7 linked regions of the Homo sapiens genome follow. The protein of the gene in region 1 purifies or fractionates together with the protein of each later gene. This does not show direct contact. Each region holds a gene or a part of one and is shown in the gene's direction. Other genes may lie near its edges.

Region 1 (3,500 bases):
GTGGCATGTCCAGGTGGGGGCTGATAGCTGTGGGAAACAAGGCTGGAAGTAGGAAGGGGCTTGGGATTTATCTGACACTTCGGGTGACCAACCGTCCTGGTTTGCCTGGGCTGAGGGGTTTCCCAGGATATGGGACTTTCAGTGCTAAAACTGGGAAAGTCCTGGACAAACTAGTATAAACTGGTCACCCTACCAGTGACAAGTGACAGTTCTTAATACACTCTTACCTTGACCTAGAGCAGTATGGATGGAGAGGGAAAGTTTAAGATAGTTAAAAGAATTATTTATTTATTATTATTATTTTTTAAATACACAAGGCATCTGGAAACCCTCTTCTTTTTTTTTTTGAGATAAGAGTCTTGCTCTGTTGCCCAGGCTGGAGTGCAGTGGCACGATCTTGGCTCACTGCAAGCTCCGCCTCCCGGGTTCACGCCATTCTCCTGCCTCAGCCTCCAGAGTAGCTGGGACTACAGGCGCCCGCCACCACGCCCAGCTAATTTTTTGTATTTTTAGTAGAGACGGGGTTTCACCGTGTTAGCCAGGATGGTCTCGATCTCCTGACCTTGTGATCTGCCCTCCTTGACCTCCCAAAGTGCTGGGATTACAGGCATGAGCCACTGCACCCGGCCTAGACTTTACTTTTTTAGAACAGTTTGAGATTTACAGAAAGGTTGAGAAGATAGCACAGAGAGCTGGAAACTGTTTTTAGCTTCATTATTCTTTGTAACACTCCCAGCTTGCAAACTGGAAAGGAATTTTCCTGTTAGGGTTTTACTTTTGCTAAATGGTAGAAAACTTCATACCTGTGGTCTCTGTCTGCTGAACTGAGTTAGTGATTTAGCTCAGGCAGATTGAAGTAGTCAAGAGGTTATTTGCTACACACCATGGGTGGTTTATTGTCCAGATTAGTGGCAAGGCTGTGACATTGACTGACAAATGTCCACCACCAAGCGGAAGCCTGAGTGATGGAATCGTTTGATTGCTACTGAAACATCATCTTTACCAGGGACTGCAAGTCTGCGGCTGGTAGAAATTGGTCGTTTTTGTATTGTGGCCTTCATTCTGGTCCACTTTGTGTGGGGGTCAAGATTTTTGGTTCCAGTGACAGAAACCCAGCTAGAATTGCCTTAAGCCTCAAATGGATTGAATAGCTCATGTCACTGAATGGTCTGTCCCCGCTAAACCATGGCTGAATCCAGGTGTTTGGAGCCGTCAGAAATCGGCCTTTTTCCACCTTTCAGCTCTACCTTTTTCCTGTTGGTGTCATTTTCAGGCAGGCTGCAGGCTTACATCATATCAGCTTAGCATTCCTGAGGAAAAAGAGAGCTTCTTTTCTCAATATTGCCAGCAGAAGTCCAGAATTGAGATTGAGTATCCCTGGACCAGCAAGGTCTCATGCCACCCCTGAACTGTCACTCTGGCCAAAGGTATAGGGGGATCTGATTGGCCATTCCTCACTCATATTCCCTTCCCTGGAGCAAGAGTGGGATTAGCTCCACTCAAGCTAGTGGAAAAGAATGAGAGAAAAGAGTGGTTCCCCATGGGAGAATCAGGGGTTATTGCCCAAAGAAGGCGGAGAATGGATCCATGGCAGGTAGACAGACGCACACCTACTCTTGGTGCTTTCAAGTTTTGGCTAAGGTGGCACTGACAGTGTTAGAGCTTGGGGTACAATATTGCCATGTTGATTTTCTTAAAATATCGTCTTCACCATGCCACATATTATGGGTCCTAGGCTCCCACTATGTCACGTCTAAGTTCTTCCAGGCCTTCCCACCATCTAGTTTGGGAGCACAGGGAGTTAGGAACATCCTTGTTAGGCAGACGCTGTTTAAATGGAGACCAACGGGGTGAGTCGTTGTTACCAGGCAGCGGGGTGTCAGGTGGAAGGAAGGATGTTTCAGGCAGAGGAAAAGGCATTTGAGAAAGCCTAGTGGGGCAAGGGGAGCAGTGCACATTGGCAGAACTCACGTGGTTCAGCAGGGGAGTGTTCACTGGGTGAAGAGGAAGTGAGGACCCAAGCTCAGAGCCATGCTTGGCAGTCTCCAGAGGCCAGGTCCCCTGGGGCCCTGTAAATCACTTTAAGGAATTCAGACTATGAGTGAGAACAGTAGGGAGCCACTGAAGGTTTTTTAACTACAGAAAGGCTGTGGTCTGGCTGAAGCTGGCAGAATGGATTGGATGAGGGGCAGACTGGAGGTGGGCCTCCACATGTGTTGGTGGGGCGGGGAGCAGGGGCTCTGCTGCCGTCCCCTGGTGAGTTACGGTAGCAGCTGCTGTCATCCAGGTGTATCTCCTGTTGGTGGTCCACTCACACACATACCTCGCCTGCCCACTTGAGGTCCCCTGCTCTTTTCCTCCTGCCCATCCAAATCCCTAGCTCTATCCCGAAAATGCCAGTTCTTCCCTAAAAATTGCCCTGGTGACTTCAGCCAACAAGAGTTTTGCTGTCTTCTCTAACTTCTTCTGTGCCTGTTCACACTGTCCCACACAGTTAACACATTATTATATACTTCTCATCGCCAAAGAGTGGGTCGGCTGTTAGCTCCTGTGCGTTCTTAAAGTTTCATCTCGGCCTTGAGTTAGACCCTCAGGAAGCTGGCCGGGGTTCCTGTCCTTTGGCTATCAGACATTGTCTTCCTTTGTTACATATCTTTTTTGTTGTTTTCTCCCAATTTGAACATAAGAATCATGAAAGCCTGTATGGCTTGTTCAGCTGGGTACTGGTATGCCAGCACAGGACGTGGCAGATAGTAAGCAATCAACAAATATTTGTCACAGGATGAACGAGAGGCAGACCTCTGTTTTCAGAAAAGGCCAGTCTTTTCCCAACAACTGCTTGTTCTCCCCAGTTTAGTCACAGCACCTGTGCCACAGCCATGACTTTCTCTAGGGCTAAAGCCCTAAAGAAAGCTAGGGTATAGCCCTGCCTATACCCTACACATCCCCGGCCCAGCCTCACTTGCCGGCCCTGTTTGACATCTTTGGGGGATGATTCACCAGGGGAAGCACAGCCTGTGAACACCTTCTCTAATCCTCTAGCCTGATTCCACCCTCCGTGAAGCTTCTCCTTGTCCTGCTGGCCAGAAGGCTGAACACTGACCAGATGGTGGTTTTCAGGGCACAGAGTGGGACACACTGGGGAACGTCTGCAGGGCCTCTGCCCGAGTGCTGAACAGGCCAGACAGATACAGGCTCTGTGTCTCCCATCCCTCTACCACACCTGAGACATTGTTATTTGGAGCTGTGTGGACATTGGGGGGTAAATTTCTAACCCCCAGACCTCCTATCATTCTGCTTATCCTTTCTCATGCCCCACCTTGCAAATGTACATTTCAAAATCTTGAAGGAGGAGCATCCTAATAAGCTCATTATGGTGCAAGGCATAGCACGTGCAGAAAATGCTGTCACTGAAATGAACTTGGACCTAGTATTCCTGTCTCTGAAATGGACTGAATTGCTAATTTTTGAAGGATATGGGGCATTATTAACTGTAGTGG
Region 2 (2,559 bases), on another chromosome or scaffold:
CACTCTTGAGGGTACCTTGAGTGGATGCTGGCAGGGAGGGCCACTCTGCATCGCTTCCTCTTCTGATTCTGTTCCTAGGGTGCCATGCCCACCTTCACAGCAGAGGCCTGGGCACTGGCAGTGTGCAGCCACATGGGGGGCAAGGCGTGGGGCTCACGAGTGGTGGCCCAAGGCACCGGAAGCACTACTGACCTGGAAGCTGCCCTCAGTATAGCCCAAACCTATGCCCTCAGCCAGCTCTGACCCAGGTCCGCCCAGGGACCCACATGGACTAAAGGCAATGCCAGGAGCCCTGAAGGAGCCAGCAGAACCTTCCCACATGCTGAAGCGAGGACTAGAGGCTGGAGGCCAAGCAGCTGAGCCAAAGAAGATCACCTGGGCCAGGGCCTACGTGACACAAGGAGACATGGGCTAGGGAAGGCAGAACTGGGCCCAAAGACACACACCCCCTTGGTGAAAGAGAAGACATGGACAATTATGGCTGTGACTGCACATTAGAAATTATTTCACTGGCCGGGTGTGGTGGTTCACACCTGTAATCCAAGCACTTTGGGAGGCCGAGGCAGGTAGATCATGAGGTCAGGAGATCAAAACCATCCTGGCTAACATGGTGAAACCCCATCTCTACTAAAAATACAAAAAATTAGCCGGGTGTGGTGGCACACGCCTGTAGTCCCAGCTACTCGGGAGGCTGAGGCAGAAGAATCGCTTGAACCTGGGAGGTGGAGGTTGCAGTGGGCCAAGATCGCACCACTGCACTCCAGCCTGGGTGACAGAGCGAGACTCTGTCTCAAATAATTATTTCACAGAGGATAGCAAGCTCCAGAAGGTTCTATTACCTTTAAAAAAGAGTAGTTTTGCCCCTCCCAGCAACCTAAGACCAGTCTGAACTCACACTGTCTGAAAGGCCACCCAGGATCCAAATCGGGCCATCTTCATTGCCATGAGTGTTCGGACAGGCTCTGCGTGCCAGGCAACAGTGGGCAGACAAAGGGCTCCCTGGCTACTGGGAAGATACAGAACCATCCTGTGAAAATCATTTCAGCACTGGAGACCTTCTTTGCTATTACTTCTTTCATTAACAATGACCTCTAATTTAAATTGGGCCCTGCTGGTTTGTTGATGAATTGAGCAACTGAGAACGTGGCGGGCACTAAACTGACAGTTCCTTCCTTCATGGAGCCTGCTTCATGTGGAGGAAACAGGAAATAAAGCAAAAGAAGAGGGTCAGGCTTGGTGGCTCATGCCTATAATCCTGGCATTTTAGGAGGCTGAGGTTGGAGAATCGCTTGAGGCCAGAAGTGCAAGACCAGCCTGCGCAAACAGCAAGACCCTGTCTACAAAAAAAAAAAAAAGTAATCTTTATGCCTCAGCCTCCCAGGTAGCTGAGACTACCCACACCTTGGTCCCAGCTACTTGGGAGGCTGAGGTGGGAAAATCACTTTGCCCAGGAATTCAAGGCCGCAGTGAGCTATGATTGCACCACTGCACTCCAGGCAACAGAGTGAGACCCTGTCTTAAAAAAAAGAAGGGAGAAAGTGTCAGATGGTGATGAGGTCTGGGGGGGAAATAGAGAATGGGGATCAGGAGTGTGGATGGTGATATTCCCTCACCAAGAGGTGACATGTGAGCAGGGAGCTGGGAGGTGAGGGTGTGACCCGTGTGGAAATCAGGGAAAAGCATTCCAGCCTGAGGGAACAGCCAATGCAGAGGCCGTGAGGTGGCCAGTGCCACTGAGCAGTGAGCTGGGATAGGGGCAGGTGAGGAGGCTGGAGAGCGGGGTCAGACAAACAATATGCTTATTAAAACAAGTTGTACAGCACCTGCCTCAAGCCTGAGCTGAAGCTGAAAATTGGCACTTCAAAGCAGGAGGAAGCAGAGATGGAGGAAAGCCCTCCTTCCCTACCAGAATGAGTCCACCTCAGACAGCCAGACTTTGGACCTCTGCCTTTGTTCCTAGATCTCTGTTGCTAGATGAAGGAAAGGGCCTCAGGGGATCCATCTTCAAATCAAGGGCTCCCTGGCTACCAAATTCTGTCTAGTAAAAATTATTCGAGCAGCGTGGGCCCGCCTGGCATCATTTTCTGCAGTTTCTCATTCTAATTAAGGCACTGATGATTTGCTGGTAAGGCACTGCTGAGGGCTTGAAGGGACCCAATCCCGGGTGCCTGGCCCCTCACTGCTTGCAAAGCAGCATCCTGGCCACTGGGGCAGTAGCCTGTTTAGCAGTGCTCACCACAGGCCCAGGTTCAAGCTCCTCCGCGAGCGCCAAGATGAGTTTTGGCACCCCTGATTTATTGATGAGTTAACAGAGCTTCGAGATGTTCATCCAGGGTAACCAACTAGTAGTCCTCGGCAGAGCTGAAGTCAAAGCTACCCTTTGAAAGCCCCGCCACCCTGGCTGCCTCTCCCTTCCTGAAGGCCAATTTCTTTTTTTTTACTAGCCGTCCCTCTGGTCTGTCCCTCTCGCCCTCCAGGAGATCTGGGGCCCCAACCACATCTTGTCGCGCCAGGGCTGGAAGAGAGTTTGGCACAGGGCATGGACTGTGTGAAGGAGCG
Region 3 (2,915 bases), on another chromosome or scaffold:
AAACTCTACGGTTGGGGACCCTTTCCTGCCCCTGCCTCTCGGGGTTCCTGCCAGGTTGGATGACATTTTTACAATGTTCTCTGAACACTTTCAAAAAAGTGTAGGCTGGGCCTGGTGTCGCATGCCTGTAGTCCCAGCTACTCAGGAGGCTGAGGCAGGAGAATCACTTGAACCCGGGAGGTGGAGGTTTCAGTGAGCCGAGATCACACCACTGCACTCCAGCCTGGGTGACAGAGCCAGACCCTGTCTTAAAAAAGAAAGAAAAGAAAAAGGGAAAAGATGCCGTGTAAAATCTCGTTCTGTGTCTGAATTGCCGTAGGGCTCAGATCTTCATTTGAGGTTCTGTGTCTGAATTGCCGTAGGGCTCAGATCTTCATTTGAGGTTATGTTCTATAAGTTAACGTTGATCTTGTGTGAGCTTTCGGTAGCTGGAGTAACACAGGCGGCCTCACAGCGACCTCTCCAGCGCCTTCCAAGGCACATCTGCAGCCAGCGTAGCTCCTCCTGGGAGATGCCTCCTCAAGGCCCTGCTCCAGACCACGTGGGGAGGGCCTGACAGCCAATTCCCAGGCTGTCCCCACCCTTGGAGAGTGACCCTAAACGCTAGACAGATGGGGAATGGGAAAGAAAAGAAAGCTGCAGACCTCAAGTTAAAATTCCCTCAAAAACGTTTTTATTTATCTGCTTTTTCTGAAAGGATAAAGGCTTTTTGAAAATTATTTTCTAACAAATAACATGAACACTTCTAGAAACCCTAGAAAAACACAAAGTATTCAAAATAGAAAGAAAAATTACCCATTACTCTTTAAGCCAGCATTATCCATTGCGGTGCTTTTGGAGTTGGGTGAGGCCGTAGCCTCTGCCAAGTCAAGGAGCCCGGTGGTGGCTGTGGCATTCCTGCAGGGTTGTTTTTTTTTCTTTGAGATGGAGTCTCACTCTTGTCACCCCAGCTGGAATGTGGTGGTGTAAACAGCTCACTGCAGCCTTGACCCTGAGGCTCAAGCGATCCTTCTGCCTTGGCCTCCTGAGTAGCTGGGATCCCAGGCGAGAGTCACCACACCCTGTCCATGTTCCTGCAGGTCTTGATGTGCGAGGACGCTGTGTCTTCCCTGCCACATTTTCTTCTTCTTTCTTGAGACAGACCCTTGCTCCATCACCCAGGCCAGAGTGTGGTGGTGCGAACACGGCTCACTGCAGCCTCGACCCTCAGGCTCAAGCGATCCTCACGCCTCGGACCCCCAAAGTGCTGGGATCACAGGCGAGAGTCACCATGCTGGCCTGAATCTTCAGGGTATTTTACGGTTGAAGTGTCACTTACTTAACCATCCCTGTTTCAGGAGTGTAGGTGGTCACCCTGTCTCTGCCGCTGACCTGGCCTGGACCCTCGGCTGTGAGAGGGAGGGGTGGGCTGGGCTGGAGGAACCTGAAGCCCTCGTGATGTCACAAGCCCATCTGGCTGGGCATCCCCTGCGCTGCACATGCCCCAGGTGGCCCCCACAGCAGAGGCGAGCCACTGGAGGGTGGAGGGCTTCCACGGGACGGTCTTCAGGGGGAGAAGGAAGGGCCCAGGCCCCCAGGAGACTCAGGAGACCAGAGCCTGGGGTCAGGGGCTCAGCCAGGGGCTCAGCCAGGGCTGGATGTCCGGAGCCAGCCCCGCAGCCCTGTGTTCTTCGTTCTTCGCACTCCCACCGTCCGTGTGAACAGCTCCAGCCCCACCTGCGCCTCCCTGTGCTGGGCTCCATCAGGGAGCCCAGAAGACGTGTGTGCTTCTGAAATTGGGTCCCTACATGCCTTTGTCCCAGTGCACCTTGCTCCTTCCATTTACTATCGAGATTTAAATGCCTGTTTTCTCCCCAGAGGTTGACGGATATATTCAGACGTTACGACACGGATCAGGACGGCTGGATTCAGGTGTCGTACGAACAGTACCTGTCCATGGTCTTCAGTATCGTATGACCCTGGCCTCTCGTGAAGAGCAGCACAACATGGAAAGAGCCAAAATGTCACAGTTCCTATCTGTGAGGGAATGGAGCACAGGTGCAGTTAGATGCTGTTCTTCCTTTAGATTTTGTCACGTGGGGACCCAGCTGTACATATGTGGATAAGCTGATTAATGGTTTTGCAACTGTAATAGTAGCTGTATCGTTCTAATGCAGACATTGGATTTGGTGACTGTCTCATTGTGCCATGAGGTAAATGTAATGTTTCAGGCATTCTGCTTGCAAAAAAATCTATCATGTGCTTTTCTAGATGTCTCTGGTTCTATAGTGCAAATGCTTTTATTAGCCAATAGGAATTTTAAAATAACATGGAACTTACACAAAAGGCTTTTCATGTGCCTTACTTTTTTAAAAAGGAGTTTATTGTATTCATTGGAATATGTGACGTAAGCAATAAAGGGAATGTTAGACGTGTGGTCTGCCTTCAGCTTTTCAAATCAAATAGGTCCAAGAACCAGGCCCCGTGCCCTGGTCCTCCAGACAGTCAGTGTCAGATGTTCTGGCTTGCCTGGGACCTCCCAGGGTACCGGGCACCTTCTGGAACATTGTCCAGCCCAGCGTGCACAGCTCTGCTTGTGAAAATCCAGAGGGACTGTCTCACCCTCTGTTCAGGAGGTTAAATTTCATAAGACTGCTCCTTTTGGATGAAGAAATCCAATTTGGTATAGCAGGTTGTGCATTTCCATCATTAATGATTTAGCCATGCTGTGCCCTGCAGTCTCTGCACGTGGCCTGCAGCGTTTGTCCACCCAGCGCATCCTGCTCACCTCGGTCCACTGCCAGCGCTGCCCGGTCCGCCTCCCTGCCTCACTGTGCAGCGCCGGCCCTCCTGGGTTGACACTCCCGAGGCCCAGCCTCATTCTCCAGACGCTTCCCTTCCACAGTGATGCGTCTGGTTTTGGGGCTGCAGCCTCT
Region 4 (3,232 bases), on another chromosome or scaffold:
GCATTCATTTTCCCACCTGCAAAACAGAGTCCCTCACACCTGACCTTCTATAAGAAAAGAGGAGTAGGCGGCAGGAACTGAGACTAAGGGCTCTGGGGCTGTTCTGACGGGAGCACAGTTGCCAGTGCTGCCCTTTAGTGTCCCTGTTCCTGTGGGCAAGTATCTTAACTTTTCTCTGTCTCAATTACTTCATAGGGAAAATGAAGATAATAGCACTTAATAGGATCATTACAAATTAAAGACTTAATACATGTAATGCTTAGAATAGGCCGGGCGCAGTGGCTCATGCCTGTAATCCCAGCACTTTGGGAGGCTGATGCAGGCGGATCACCTGAGGTCAGGAGTTCAAGACCAGCCTGGCCAACATGGCGAAACCCTTTCTCTACAAAAATATAAAAATTAGCTGGCATGATGGTGGGTGCCTGTAATCGCAGCCACTTGGGAGGCTGAGGCAGGAGAATCGCTTGAACCTAGGAGGTGGAGGTTGCAGTGAGCTGAGATCACGCCACTGCACTCCAGCCTGAGCAACAGAGTGAGACTCTGTCTCAAAAAAAAAAAAAAAAAAAAAAAGCATAGAACAGCCTGGCACATAGTACTGCTCAATGAATGTTGGCTATTATTTATTTTCCAAATGTTACAAAATAAATTTATATAAGTATGAAACTTAAATAGTACTTATTATGTGCCAGGAATTCTTTTAAGAAAATTACAACTATTGGCCAGGCGTGGTGGCTTATGCCTGTAATCCAGGCACTTTGGGAGGCCGAGGTGGGTGGATTACTGAGTTCAAGACCAGCCTGGCCAACATGGTGAAACCCTGTCTGTGCTAAAAATACAAAAATTAGCTGGCCGGGCTCGCTTGAACCCATGAGGCAGGGGTTGCAGTGAGCCACGACGGTGCGACCACACTCCAGCCTGGGTGACAGAGGGAAACTCTGTCTCAAAAAAAAAAAAAAAAGAACATTACAAGTATTAACTCATTAATCCTAAGTGATAGTTGCTATTCTTATTCCCGCTATTGAGATGAGGACACTGAGATCCAGAGAGGTTAAGTGACTTGCCCAGAGGCACACAGCCTGTTGTGGGATTTGAACCCTGGCTCAAGAGTCCATGCTGGCTGGGCATGGTAGTTCACACCTGTAATCCCAATACTTTTGGAGCCCAAAGCAGAAGGATCACTTGATGCCTGGAGTTTGAGACCAGCCTGGGCAACATAGCAAGACCCTCTCTCTAAAAAAAAAAAAATGTTTTTAATTAGCTGGGTGTGGTGGTGCGCACCTGTAGTCCCAGCTACTAGGGAGGGGAGGCTGAGTTGGGAGGATCACTTGAGCCCAGGAGTTCAAGGCTACAGTAAGCTATGGTCTCACTACTGCACTCCAGCCTGAGTGACAGAGAATCCCTGTCTCATTTGCCAAAAAAAAGAAAGAGTCTGTGCTCCTGACTACTTGTGATTATCATTAACTGCCCTCTCAGAAAGGTGAGAGTGAAATGAATGTCAGAGGCAGAACTCCTGACTCGCATCCAGTCACTTCCCAGCAAAGCCCTCACCCAGACCCAACAGTTTTCAAATTTACAAATTAGAGGCCCAGGTGAACCCAGAATTACCTCTGTGATCTTTTTCTTCACCATTAGGCGACCAAAAAAGACACTCAGTATGGTGTTAGGAAGACACATCTTTCTTCTCCACGAGTGCCCGTAATTCCACCATTAGACTGCCACTGTAAAACCAAAGTCTGCCCAGGGAGGGAACCTAACAGGTCCCCAGTTCCTCAGTGGGAACTGTCTGTCAGATTCCTGGCAGCTCTGGGATAGCCCATGTGTGGCAGAAAGTAAGGAGACTGAGGCTGCAGGCTTTCTGGGTTGGGTCTCTGTGGTCCTCCAAGCCTCTGTCCCCTCGAACTTGTCCCACATGACCCCACAGGCATCAACACGTGTCTCACTCATTTTCTTCAGAGCATCCACAAGAATCTAGAAGCAAAAATAGCCCGCTTCCACCAGCGGGAGGATGCCATCCTCTATCCCAGCTGTTATGACGCCAACGCCGGCCTCTTTGAGGTGTGTGGAAGCTGTCCTGCGGGTGAGGGTTGGTGGGGCCTGTTAGGCTGAGGAAGGCTTGGGTGTGGGCAGTCGGGAGAACCTAGCAGGATTCAGTGCCATGCCTAGAGGCTCCAGAGCCCGCTTCTGGAGGTCAAGGTTGGGCCAGGTAGGTGCTCCAGGAGGAATCCTGGGGCTTGCAGGGAGCCTGAGTTCCAGAGCCTTTGGGGGATAAGCTACATCAGCTGGAAGGCTGGGGGAGGCGGGGGCCTGGTACTCACCAAATATATTCTCACCTCCTCTTACTAGAGCAGGGCGCTGGTCCAGCCCGGCACTGAGACACGGGGGCCCCAGAGAGAAGCACAGAACACCTTGCCTCTCTACCCAGAGGAGCGCCCTGGCTGGCAGTACAGTTTTTTGATTTGCTGGAGTCCCGGTCAAGGGAGAAGCCCAGGGTGGTTAAATGATGGCTCTACGCTCACTGCCTCCCTCCAGGCCCTGCTGACCCCAGAGGACGCAGTCCTGTCGGACGAGCTGAACCATGCCTCCATCATCGACGGCATCCGGCTGTGCAAGGCCCACAAGTACCGCTATCGCCACCTGGACATGGCCGACCTAGAAGCCAAGCTGCAGGAGGCCCAGGTGGGGCGACGCCTGGGTCCACCCTCAGCCTCCGCCTGGGGAAGGAAGTGAGGCTTAGAGAGGCCAACTCCTCACTCACAGAGATAGCCTGAAAGTTTGAAACAGCAGAGATTTGTCCAAGATGTGAACCCAGATCCCTCACACCCAGAGCATTATTCTTTTTTTTTTTTCCCTGAGACAGAGTTTCACTCTGTCGCCAAGGCTGGAGTATAGTGGTGTGATCTCGGCTCACTGCAACCTCCACCTCCTGGGTTCAAGTGATTCTCCTGCCTCAGCCTCCCAAGTAGCTGGGATTACAGGCATCCGCCACCCCACCTGGCTAATTTTTGTATTTTTAGTAAAGACGGGGTTTCATCATGTTGTCCAGGCTGGTCTCGAACTCCTGACCTCAGTTGATTTCACCCACCTAGGCCTCCCAAAGTGCTGGGATTATAGACGTGAGCCACTGTGCCTGGCACCAGAGCATTATTCCATTGTGCCATGGTGCCTTGAGGTTTTTCCCTGTGTATGTGTGACAGTCTCACTCTGTTGCCCAGGCTGTATTGCAATGGTGCAG
Region 5 (3,500 bases), on another chromosome or scaffold:
TTATTGTTGTGGATAGCTGTCAGCCTTTATTTTTATGTTTAGGTTCATTTTTCCTCTTGATGACTTTTTAAGTTTTTCTTAAGTCTTGCATTTTAAATAATGTATTATAATATAATAAGCCTTTTTTATTTAGAACTGAGAATTTCAGAAGACATAGTTTAGACATAATTCTAAAATTTAGTGCAGATTTCTCCATCTTAGAAGTACTTGTGGAGGGCTTTTATAACGAGACTTGGGTTTATTTAACGTCGAGCTTCAAAAATATATATATTTTTGCAATTTTTAGGTTTTATATTATACAAATTTAAAGAGAGATGGTAATATTAATTTCTCCCTTCTTTAGCAGTTGTATCTATTTCTTAGCCTTATGCGTCTTAGAGGTAACTTGTTTTTTTAACAGTCAATTTTGTAAGCAGGAAGAAGCTTTTATTTCTTTACTTATGTCTAGGTTCCTTTGGTATCATCCACAAGTGAGGGGTACACAGCATCTCAACCCTTGTACCAGCCTTCTCATGCTACAGAGCAACGACCACAGAAGGAACCAATTGATCAGATTCAGGCAAGTTCTGTTACCGGGTCACATACATTTGATGAGGCACTTACTCATGAATTGAACAGATGTACATTACCATTAATATAATGATTCTTCTTTTTGGACCTACTTTGCTTTCATGAAATATTTGAGTTTGTTAATACATATAAGTTTGAGATTAATTTACCACTTTAGTACATCTGTTCACTTTTTGTTTGGCTAAGTTTAGTTTACCGCTAAAGTGCATCTATTCACTTTGTGTTTAGGCAACAATCTCTTTAAATACAGACCAGACTACAGCATCATCATCCCTTCCTGCTGCGTCTCAGCCTCAAGTATTTCAGGCTGGGACAAGCAAACCTTTACATAGCAGTGGAATCAATGTAAATGCAGCTCCATTCCAATCCATGCAAACGGTAAGCAAATTAACTAACATTAATTGCCTAGTATGTAATATGAATCATGGTAGATTTTCTTTTCTTTTTTAAAGGTCTTCATTTAACTGTGCTTGAGTCTGCATCTTTCATTAACTGTAGGGTATATTTAATTGAACATAAACTGATTATTCCAGAGATTAACTGATACTAACGGATATTCTAGAGATAAATTTTAGCCTTATGAGTGATGTGCCTGTATCATCTTAATTTGTAGTTTTACCCTTTTGATTTGATTAACAAAAGCTTAAACATTCAGAGAAATAGACTAATATAACATCCATATAATCATTACCTAGATTTAATAGTTGCCCTGTTTGCTTAATCTTTTATTTTACTGAAGTATTTTGAAGTTTCAGATGTTATGCTTTACCTTGATTCTTGAGCAAGCACCTTTAGAGAATTTCTAGAAAATAATAATAATACTATAATCTGTGGGGTGCAGCTAAATCGGTGCTGAGAGGAAAGTTCATAAGATTAAATATTAAAATAACTTTTGATTAATATGTTAATAAAAATGAAAAAACATTCAACCCTGTTAAAGTTCATAGAACAAACTTCTGTAAGTGGTACTGCATCCAGGAGTTTGTCTTATTTATTTATTTTTTGAGACAAAGTCTTGCTCCGTCGCCCAGGCTGGAGTGTAGTGGCGTGATCTCAGCTCACTGCAATATCCGCCTCCTGGGTTCAAGCGATTCTCATGCCTCAGCCTTTGGAGTAGCTGACACTCCAGGCATAAGCCACCATGCCCAGCTAATTTTTGTATTTTTAGTAGAGACGGGGTTTCACCATGTTGGCCAGGCTGGTCTTGAACTTTTGGCTTCAGATGATCTGCCTGCCTCAGCCTCCCAAAGTGCTGGGATTACAGGTGTGAGCCACTGTGCCAGGCCAGAGTTTGTCTTTTAAAAAGATTTCTCATATATGTAAAAGCATTTCCAAGGCTGCTGATTGCATGTCTTTTTATTTTTTTTAATTCCCTACTTCCATTTCACAGCATATTATACTCCCCTTTAAGTACTATATGGTATATATGTCTTTTTCCACATTGAATCACTTGGAGGGATTTTTGTATGTGTGTGTGATGTTTTTGTGTTTGAGACCTCTGTGATGTCTTTATTTATGTCTGAGGTAAAACCACCATTGAGTTTGGCCATGTTATAAACCAGAGAATAAAAGGATGAACTAATCATTTACTTTATTTACTAACAGGTGTTCAATATGAATGCCCCAGTTCCTCCTGTTAATGAACCAGAAACTTTAAAACAGCAAAATCAGTACCAGGCCAGTTATAACCAGAGCTTTTCTAGTCAGCCTCACCAAGTAGAACAAACAGAGCTTCAGCAAGAACAGCTTCAAACAGGTACGAAATCCAGTGTCACCTCATTGGCTCCTTGCTTTCCAGCACAGTTATTGACAGTGTTAGGACAGTTTAGACTTCAGAGTGGTGGTGTCCAAGAGTTTCTGTTTTAGTAGCAGACCATATGAATTTTTCATTTCAGATCATGAGTTAAATTGAGTCTGTACTTGTATATGTGAATTATGTGCAATTTTTGGAGGCTTTATAGCCATTTTCCTTTTGTCACTGAACTTACATAATATCCCTGTTGCATTGTATAATTTATATGGAATTAAATTTGTTACTTGAATTACCATAAAGTGTACTTTTTTTTTTTTTTTTGAGATGGGGTCTCACTCTGTCACCCAGGCTGGAGCGCAGTGCCGTGATCTCGGCTTACTGCAACCTCTGCCTCCTGGACACAAGCAATCCTCCCTACCTCAGCCTCCCAAGTAGCTTGGGAATACACGCATGTGCCACCACGTCCAGCTAATTTTTTGTATTTTTGGTAAAGTTGGGGTTTCACCATGTTGCCCAGGCTTGTCTTGAACTTCTGAGCTCACGTGATCTGCCCACCTCAGCCTCCCAAAGTGCTGGAATTAAAGGCGTGAGCCATTGCACCTGGTGATAAACTATACTTTTAATTGTTAATTGATTGAAGGCTTTTAGCATGATATCTGGCATTGAGTCAGTTAGACAAAGTTAAGAAAAAACTCATGGTGGCTGCATTTCGTGGACTGGGTTGAAACATAATCTATTTTGTCAAGTAAGGTCATAATTTGGCTAGTTACCATACCTGTCACGATAGTAATGTAGGTAGGGACGCTTTTATGTATTTGAGACAGGTTCTCACTTTGTTGCCCGGGCTGGAGTGCAGTGATGCCAGCATAACTCACTGCAGCCTCAAACTCCTGGGCTCAATGATCCTCCTCCCTCAGCCTCCTGAGTAGTTGGTAGTTGGGACTACAGGTGCTTACCGCCATGGCTGGCTAATTTTTTTTTTTTTTTTGTAGAGATAGGGTCTCCAGGAGCTCACTATGATGCCAGGCTGATCTCCAACTCCTTGCCTTGAGCGAACTTATTGTCTCTGTCTCCCAGAGTGGTGGGATTATGGGCATGAACTACCTTGTCTAGCTCGATAGAGATACTTTAGATTTTTTTTTATATATATATTTTTTTAAGAAATGGGGTCTCTGTC
Region 6 (3,500 bases), on another chromosome or scaffold:
AAAGTGCTGGGATTACAGGCATGAGCCACCATGCCCAGCCAAGACCTCTTTTTCTTGATAGCTTTATTTTTGGAGGATTTTCTCTTTGTCAAATTCCTCGTTAAATACATTTATAAGATTATCTACTTCTTTTAATTTAGAGAGGTAAATTGACAAGTTTAATAGATTTATAGTAACTAAAAGCAAAAGGTCTTGGGCTGGATATGGTGGCTTACACCTGTCATCCCAGCACTTTGGGAAGTCAAGGTAGGCAGATCGCTTGAGGTCAGGAGTTGAAGACCAGCCTGGCCAACATGGTGAAAACCTGTCCTTACTAAAAATACAAAAATTATCTGAGTGTGGTTGCACACACCTGTAGTCCCAGCTAGTTGGGAGGCCGAGGTGGGAGGATCACTTGAACCCAGGAAGCGGAGTTTGTAGTGAGCTGAGATCACACCACTGCACTCCAGCCTGGGTGACAGAGCCAGACCCTATCTCAGAAAAAAAAAAAAGAAAAAGGTCTTGACTTATTAAATGTCATAAGAAAGCCAGGTACAGTGACTCTTGCTTGTAATCTCAGTGCTTTGGGAGGCTAAGGCAGGAGGATTGCTTGAGGCCAGGAGTTTGACACCAGTCTGGGCAACATAGTGAGACCTCATTTCTACAAAAGATTTAAAACTTAAAAGTTAGCCAGGTATGGTGGCACGTGTCTGTAATCCTAACTACTTGGGAGGCTAATGTGGGAGGATCTCTCGAACTTAGGAGTTTGAGGCTACAGGGAGCCGTGATTGTGCCACTGTATTCCAGCCTGGGTGACAGAACAAGACCCCATCTCTTAAAAAAAAAAAAATAGGCCAGGCATGGTGGCTCATGCCTGTAATCCCAGCACTTCAGGAGGCTGAGGCAGGTGGATCATTTGAGGCCAGGAGTTCGAGACCAGCCTGGCCAACATGGTGAAACCCCATCTCTACTAAAAATACAAAAATTAGCCAGATATGGTGGCAGGCACCTGTAACCCCAGCTACTTGGGAGGCTGAGGCAGGAGAATTGCTTGAACCTGGGAGGTGGAGGCTGCAGTGAGTTGAGATCGCGCCACTCCACTCCAGCCTGGGTGACAGAGCAAGACTCCATCTCGGGGGAAAAAAAAAAAAAAGGTTGCAACAGAGCAAGACCCTGTCTCTTATGTTTTTAAAAAGTTAAAAAAATTCAAAAGATGTAGCTGCGTAATGAAGTATATTTAGGTCTCTGGCTGTTTGTATTCTTGGAATGTATTCTCTTCACCAGTGTTATTGATCTCATTCATGAACAGGGTAAGCATTCCCCACTTGAAGTGTGTTGTCTAGGACTGTCTTGTGTGGGGAACTTGGAAAAACCTGCTGCACCTGAAAATAACTCTTTTATGTATTTATTGGGGGAGAGCATCCCATAAATAGAATGTCATTCTCTTCTCACATATTCTTAGAAGAGGAGGCTAATATATTAAACGGAAATATTCATTCACACTTTAGTATGAGTGAATTTATCAGTGTGTTCTTGAATAAGTCTTCCTTGGAAGGAAGAATAGAGAGAGCTTGAGGAAACAGAGCCTGAATAGGAAAAAGAGGGAGAACACCAAAGGAAATTAGGGACTCCAAAGGTAAAGTTGAAATTTCTTCACAAATAAGCTTAGAGCCAACTTTGGTAGAGAATGCCCTCGATCTAGAAGTTTGTATCCTTTGAAATGGGAGATTCTACAATTATATTATATTTATTTATTTTTGAGAAGGAGTCTCGCTGTGTCGCCCAGGCTGGAGTGCAGTGGTGTGATCCCAGCTCACTGCAAGCTCCGCCTCCCTAGTTCACGACATTCTCCTGCCTCAGCCTCCCAAGTAGCTGGGATTACAGGCACCCCCCACCATGCCTGGCTAATGTTTTGTATTTTTAGTAGAGATGGGGTTTCACCATGTTAGCCAGGATGGTCTTGATCTCCTGACCTTGTGATTCGCCTGCCTAAGCCTCCCAAAGTGCTGGTATTACAGGCGTGAGCCACCGCGCCTAGCCCCTATTTTATTTTTATTAATAGTCATTTTCTCCTAAACTTATGTCAGTTGAAAAGTATGAAGCCCTTAACTTAAATCATCCCAATGCCTGGCTTATAATAAGTATTTGAGAAAAGTCCATTCCTCTTTTCTTTCACAGGTCCTTGGTAGTTTTAACACTTCAGCCTCCAGCTTCTTAGTATGAGTGTTTTATCAGACCACTTTCCTTCTTAAAGACAGCATAAAAGCACTGGATGAATTGGGGTAGAGAAATAAGCCATGCTAGAATAGAAAGGGGTAAAGAGATGCAATAAAGCCTACAGTTTTTGGCTGGTATTTGCTCTATGGTATTAATGTAAACCTATTTAAATTTTTCTTTTTTTTATTTCTTAAAGAATGTAATTGACCGGAAACCATACCCTGATGATGAAAATTTAGTGGAAGTGAAGTTTGCCCGCACACCTGTTATGTCTACATATCTGGTGGCATTTGTTGTGGGTGAATATGACTTTGTAGAAACAAGGTCAAAAGATGGTGTGTGTGTCCGTGTTTACACTCCTGTTGGCAAAGCAGAGCAAGGAAAATTTGCGTTAGAGGTAAATGTACTTGAAGAGGATTGTTCCAACAGTCCATAACTCCAGGTTGGGGAATTTACATTTCTGGTCAATTATTAGTACAGTTATTTATAATTTAATCTGAAAGTTGTGCTACTTGGTTTATTTTTAGTAGAATTTAGGAAATGCCAACCTTGGTGTTTCATTATTTTACAAAATAATAATTAAGAGAATATAAGAGTGGAATTTCTCTAGGGAATGGGTTGGAAAATATGTAGTTATATTTTTCATATCAAGTTATAAATGGATTAAAGTTTGGCCATTGTATTCAAAGTTTGGAGCTAAGGCAGTCTTCGGAGGGTAGGGCTCCTCGGGATTCATTTCTAGTAATTTAAGATACATTGGCTTGCAACAGGATTCCTTTGTGGGTTTCAATATGAATTATAATAACATATTTATTAGATGGTTATTTTGTTTATACTTTTATAGGTTGCTGCTAAAACCTTGCCTTTTTATAAGGACTACTTCAATGTTCCTTATCCTCTACCTAAAATTGATCTCATTGCTATTGCAGACTTTGCAGCTGGTAAAGTAAATTTCATTTTATTGCTGAATTGTAATAACTTTTTAAAATTTTGTGACTTTTGATGCAAGAGTATATATATATATATATATATCAATAAATGTTTATATTTATTTTGTGAAGGTGCCATGGAGAACTGGGGCCTTGTTACTTATAGGTATGTTAATGATGTGTTACCCTGCCTTATCTTTTCAAATCACTGATTTCAAAAGGGCTTCCCTCCTAATCACAGTTGAGTAGCTTCTGCTTTACGATATGGTGTAAATTTTTCTACCTTCCCCCACTTCCGTGCACATTTCAAGAATGCAGATGGACACCCCTCCCTTTGGTGCTACTGTCTGAGGGTGTAAGATTTTAAAGTGAGCA
Region 7 (3,500 bases), on another chromosome or scaffold:
GGCGCGGTGGCCTATGCCTGTAATCCCAGCATTTTGGGAGGCCGAGACGGGCAGATCACGAGGTCAGGAGTTCAAGACCAGCCTGGCCAATATGGTGAAACCCCGTCTCTACTAAAACAAAAAACAAAAATTAGCCAGGCATGGTGGCACATGCCTGTAATCCCAGCTACTCAGGAGGCTGAGGCAGGAGAATCGCTTGAAACCAGAAGGCAGAGGTTGCAGTGAGCTGAGATCGTGCCACCGCACTCCAGCCTGGGCAACAGAGCGAGAGCCTGTCTCAAAATAAATAAATAAATAAAAATAAAAATTGCAATGGCAACTCAAGGGAGAGTTGAAGCCTTCTTGTTGTTCTACAGATTTGGGTGTGTACACTTGTATGTGCACACAGAGATTGTTTACATTGTTACACATTTTCACTTTTAATCTCTAAAATTGCCATCTCATTTTAAGATGAAAATAGAAGCTCAGTTTTTCATGATCCTGGTTTCTGTCAAATTCTTGATTTAGTAGGGGCCAAGATTACCAACATAGATAACTAAAGTATTCTACATATGATGCATTCCTTTTTAAAAATTTGTTTTAGAGGACAGAGGTTTAATCATTCTTTATGAGGCTGAGTGCAGTGGCTTACGCCTGTAATCCCAGCACTTTGGTAGGCCAAGTCAGGCAGATCAATTGAGGTCATGTTGAAACCCTGTCTCTACTAAAAATATAGAAATTTAGCCAGGTGTGGTGGTACGTGCCTATAATCCCAGCTACTGGGGAGGCTAAGGCATGAAAATCACTTGAACCCAGGAGGTGGAGGTTGCAGTGTGCCAAGATCACGCCATTGTACTCCAGCTTTGGCTAGTTATGTGGTACTGCTATGCTATTAATTTTTTTAAAAATTATTGTGATTAGGAATGGGATCTCACTATGTTGCCCAGGCTAGCTGGGCTCAAGCAATCCTCCTGCCTCAGCCTCCTGAGTAGTGGGACTATAGGTGTGCACCACTACGCTCTATTTTTATCATAGAATAAGCCAAAGGCAGCCTTTTATAACACTGTTTAGAGCTGAGTTAGGGATAATGAAAGCTTTAAATTGGGGGTAATTATGTACAGTACATGGCAAAGGCATAATAATGAGCTCTTACAAGTCAGTGATACCTAGGCAGGACCCCCAGTGGAGATGAAGTTTAGCTATTATCAGTTTACTTTTAAAAGTTTAACATCACTAAATGCAGTCAATACAATTTAAACTTAATCAATACCTCTTTTCATTACAAATCAGAAAGAAAAAAAAACGTTATAAGCAATCATTCCTCAGTATGATCATGGAAATGGGTTCCTTCATTACTCCTATGAGTATAAATTAGCAGGACTCTTTGGCATTTTGCATCTAGATCCTCAAAAATGTTATCCTTGACTCTTTATTTTTACACTCATAATTCATGAGTATAAAAGAATCATATGAAAGCTTATACACAAGCATGTTCCTCCAGCATTATTTTCCATCACAAAAAATAGGGGAATGGTTAACCATAGAATGAACACCCATTGGACAGATCCTAACTGGATATCATATAATATAGTATTACCTTTTGTAAGCCTCAATTTCCTCATCTTATGGAGTGAAAATTAATTGAGATAAAGCCTATAAAGTGTTTTTCACACCTGCCTGGCACGGAGTAAGCACTCACATAATAGCTATTAACTTTGATTCCTGAATGAATGCCATAGAAACCATTTGAGGCTCCCTCATTGTTACCAGTGCTCATTTTAACAATCCTGTTGTCCAAGAGTGCCAGGTTTTCTTCTCTCTATGCTTAGCAACAGTCCCAGTGGGTTCCGGCTAGCTTTCTGCATTTCGTAAAGTGGTCACAATAAATACAAAAGCCATGCTATGTTCCACATAGAAGTCGAAGTAGAAAGACTCCCATGCCATCCCATTCATTACCACATTTTACCACGTAAGTAATAAAAATCCACAGTGTCGGGGTGGGAGTGCCAAGGCTTCATAGGTTCCATTTGAAAACTTTACTCTGCAAAAGGAGATCAGCCCCAGGAACTAGTACCTAAGACAGACACTGGCCTCTTATATTTCATATCCTTTAGGTATTTGTCTGATACTTCTTCACTCTTAACTGCAGCCCTGCCATTTCAGCAGGCATTAAACTAGATTCCTGTTACATGTTTATATGCAGGAAATAGATTTTAAATGATGATAGGTGATTTTTTTTTTAATTCTTTGTGGTTTTTTTAATCAAGTTTTTTTGTTTTTTGTTTTTTGTTTTTTGTTTTTTTTGAGACAGAGTCTTACTCTGTTGCCAGGGTAGAGTGCAGTGGTGCGACCTTGGCTCACTGCAACCTCCACCTCTCAGGTTCAAGCAGTTCTCCTGCCTGAGTCTCCCAAGTAGCTGGGACTACAAGTGCGTGCCACCACACCCAGCTAATTTTTTGTATTTTTAGTAGAAACAGGGTTTCACCATGTTGGCCAGGATGGTCTCAATCTCTTGACCTCGTGATCCGTCCACCTCGGCCTCCCAATGTGCTGGGATTACAGGTGTGAGCCACCATGCCTGGCCACTTTAATCAAGTTTTCTACAATCAATATGTATTTCTCTTAAAATGAGGGATACAGCTCCTGATGTAAAGAGTTTTTCCTAGCCTTGCAATTACTATGGTTGCAAGAATAAGCAGAGTTTTTGGGTTGTGGTGAAGTATCTAAGCTAGAGTTTGACTAGAAATGAAGGCAGGTAAATTTGTAATCAGAAAGTCACAATGATTTGATTTGATTGTGAAAGTCACAATCCCCTGTGTTAAGTTCATGGACTCAAAGTAGCTTTCCCATATTTGTACGTCATTTTAAACATAAATTATGCTCTAAGGACCTTACATTCAAAAAGGGACGAAAGCATTTTTATGAATGATAGTGGTTATAGGAAATGTTTATTTCTTTTTTGTTTGTTTATAGTAAATCTGATATGTCTCGCTTGCGATTAGCTGCTGGTAGTGCCATAATGAAGCTTGCTCAGGAACCTTGTTACCATGAAATTATTACCCCAGAACAGTTTCAGCTCTGTGCACTTGTTATTAATGTAAGTAACAATCTTATTTTTGTCAATTACTTATCTTCAAAGTTGAATACATTACTTTTCTATGGATACAAATCCATTTATAATGTGAATATATGCACAAAAGTCACTACTATTATTACCTGTTTAACTGTCTTCCAATTATTACATTATTTATTCTCCCATATAATTATCTTCTTTTTAATTGAAGACACTAAAAATACTTAAACTGCTGTTTTTTATTTAATAAATGGTTGCCAATTTAAGTTTTTCTGTGCTGCTGTAGGATGAGTGTTACCAAGTAAGGCAGATATTTGCTCAGAAGCTGCATAAGGCACTTGTGAAGTTACTGCTCCCATTGGAGTATATGGCGATCTTTGCCTTGTGTGCCAAAGATCCTGTGAAGGAGAGAAGAGCACACGCACGACAATGTTTACTGAAAAATATC

The links.
Region 2: the proteins of CLEC16A (region 1) and AARS2 purify together in Homo sapiens (affinity purification with mass spectrometry, with the first as the bait; one study listed by BioGRID). This does not show direct contact.
Region 3: the proteins of CLEC16A (region 1) and PDCD6 purify together in Homo sapiens (affinity purification with mass spectrometry, with the first as the bait; one study listed by BioGRID). This does not show direct contact.
Region 4: the proteins of CLEC16A (region 1) and GCAT purify together in Homo sapiens (affinity purification with mass spectrometry, with the first as the bait; one study listed by BioGRID). This does not show direct contact.
Region 5: the proteins of CLEC16A (region 1) and CAPRIN1 purify together in Homo sapiens (affinity purification with mass spectrometry, with the first as the bait; one study listed by BioGRID). This does not show direct contact.
Region 6: the proteins of CLEC16A (region 1) and NPEPPS purify together in Homo sapiens (affinity purification with mass spectrometry, with the first as the bait; one study listed by BioGRID). This does not show direct contact.
Region 7: the proteins of CLEC16A (region 1) and PDS5A purify together in Homo sapiens (affinity purification with mass spectrometry, with the first as the bait; one study listed by BioGRID). This does not show direct contact.

What each region holds. Positions count from the first base shown.
Region 1 is NC_000016.10:10,947,564-10,951,063, forward strand, and holds part of CLEC16A (protein CLEC16A), read left to right. Parts: intron 1-3,500. UniProt on the Homo sapiens protein: Regulator of mitophagy through the upstream regulation of the RNF41/NRDP1-PRKN pathway. Mitophagy is a selective form of autophagy necessary for mitochondrial quality control.
Region 2 is NC_000006.12:44,298,231-44,300,789, reverse strand, and holds the end of AARS2 (alanine--tRNA ligase, mitochondrial), read left to right. Parts: intron 1-78; coding exon 79-243; 3' UTR 244-2,059; downstream 2,060-2,559. UniProt on the Homo sapiens protein: Catalyzes the attachment of alanine to tRNA(Ala) in a two-step reaction: alanine is first activated by ATP to form Ala-AMP and then transferred to the acceptor end of tRNA(Ala). Also edits incorrectly charged tRNA(Ala) via its editing domain.
Region 3 is NC_000005.10:312,560-315,474, forward strand, and holds the end of PDCD6 (programmed cell death protein 6), read left to right. Parts: intron 1-1,857; coding exon 1,858-1,956; 3' UTR 1,957-2,415; downstream 2,416-2,915. UniProt on the Homo sapiens protein: Calcium sensor that plays a key role in processes such as endoplasmic reticulum (ER)-Golgi vesicular transport, endosomal biogenesis or membrane repair.
Region 4 is NC_000022.11:37,810,934-37,814,165, forward strand, and holds part of GCAT (2-amino-3-ketobutyrate coenzyme A ligase, mitochondrial isoform 2 precursor), read left to right. Parts: intron 1-1,953; coding exon 1,954-2,055; intron 2,056-2,343; coding exon of another isoform or gene 2,344-2,529; coding exon 2,530-2,676; intron 2,677-3,232. UniProt on the Homo sapiens protein: Pyridoxal phosphate (PLP) dependent enzyme, which catalyzes the cleavage of 2-amino-3-oxobutanoate to glycine and acetyl-CoA.
Region 5 is NC_000011.10:34,089,731-34,093,230, forward strand, and holds part of CAPRIN1 (caprin-1), read left to right. Parts: intron 1-448; coding exon 449-559; intron 560-798; coding exon 799-948; intron 949-2,175; coding exon 2,176-2,326; intron 2,327-3,500. UniProt on the Homo sapiens protein: mRNA-binding protein that acts as a regulator of mRNAs transport, translation and/or stability, and which is involved in neurogenesis, synaptic plasticity in neurons and cell proliferation and migration in multiple cell types.
Region 6 is NC_000017.11:47,583,108-47,586,607, forward strand, and holds part of NPEPPS (puromycin-sensitive aminopeptidase), read left to right. Parts: intron 1-2,392; coding exon 2,393-2,593; intron 2,594-3,040; coding exon 3,041-3,137; intron 3,138-3,257; coding exon 3,258-3,291; intron 3,292-3,500. UniProt on the Homo sapiens protein: Aminopeptidase with broad substrate specificity for several peptides. Involved in proteolytic events essential for cell growth and viability. May act as regulator of neuropeptide activity.
Region 7 is NC_000004.12:39,862,912-39,866,411, reverse strand, and holds part of PDS5A (sister chromatid cohesion protein PDS5 homolog A), read left to right. Parts: intron 1-2,952; coding exon 2,953-3,076; intron 3,077-3,338; coding exon 3,339-3,500. UniProt on the Homo sapiens protein: Probable regulator of sister chromatid cohesion in mitosis which may stabilize cohesin complex association with chromatin. May couple sister chromatid cohesion during mitosis to DNA replication.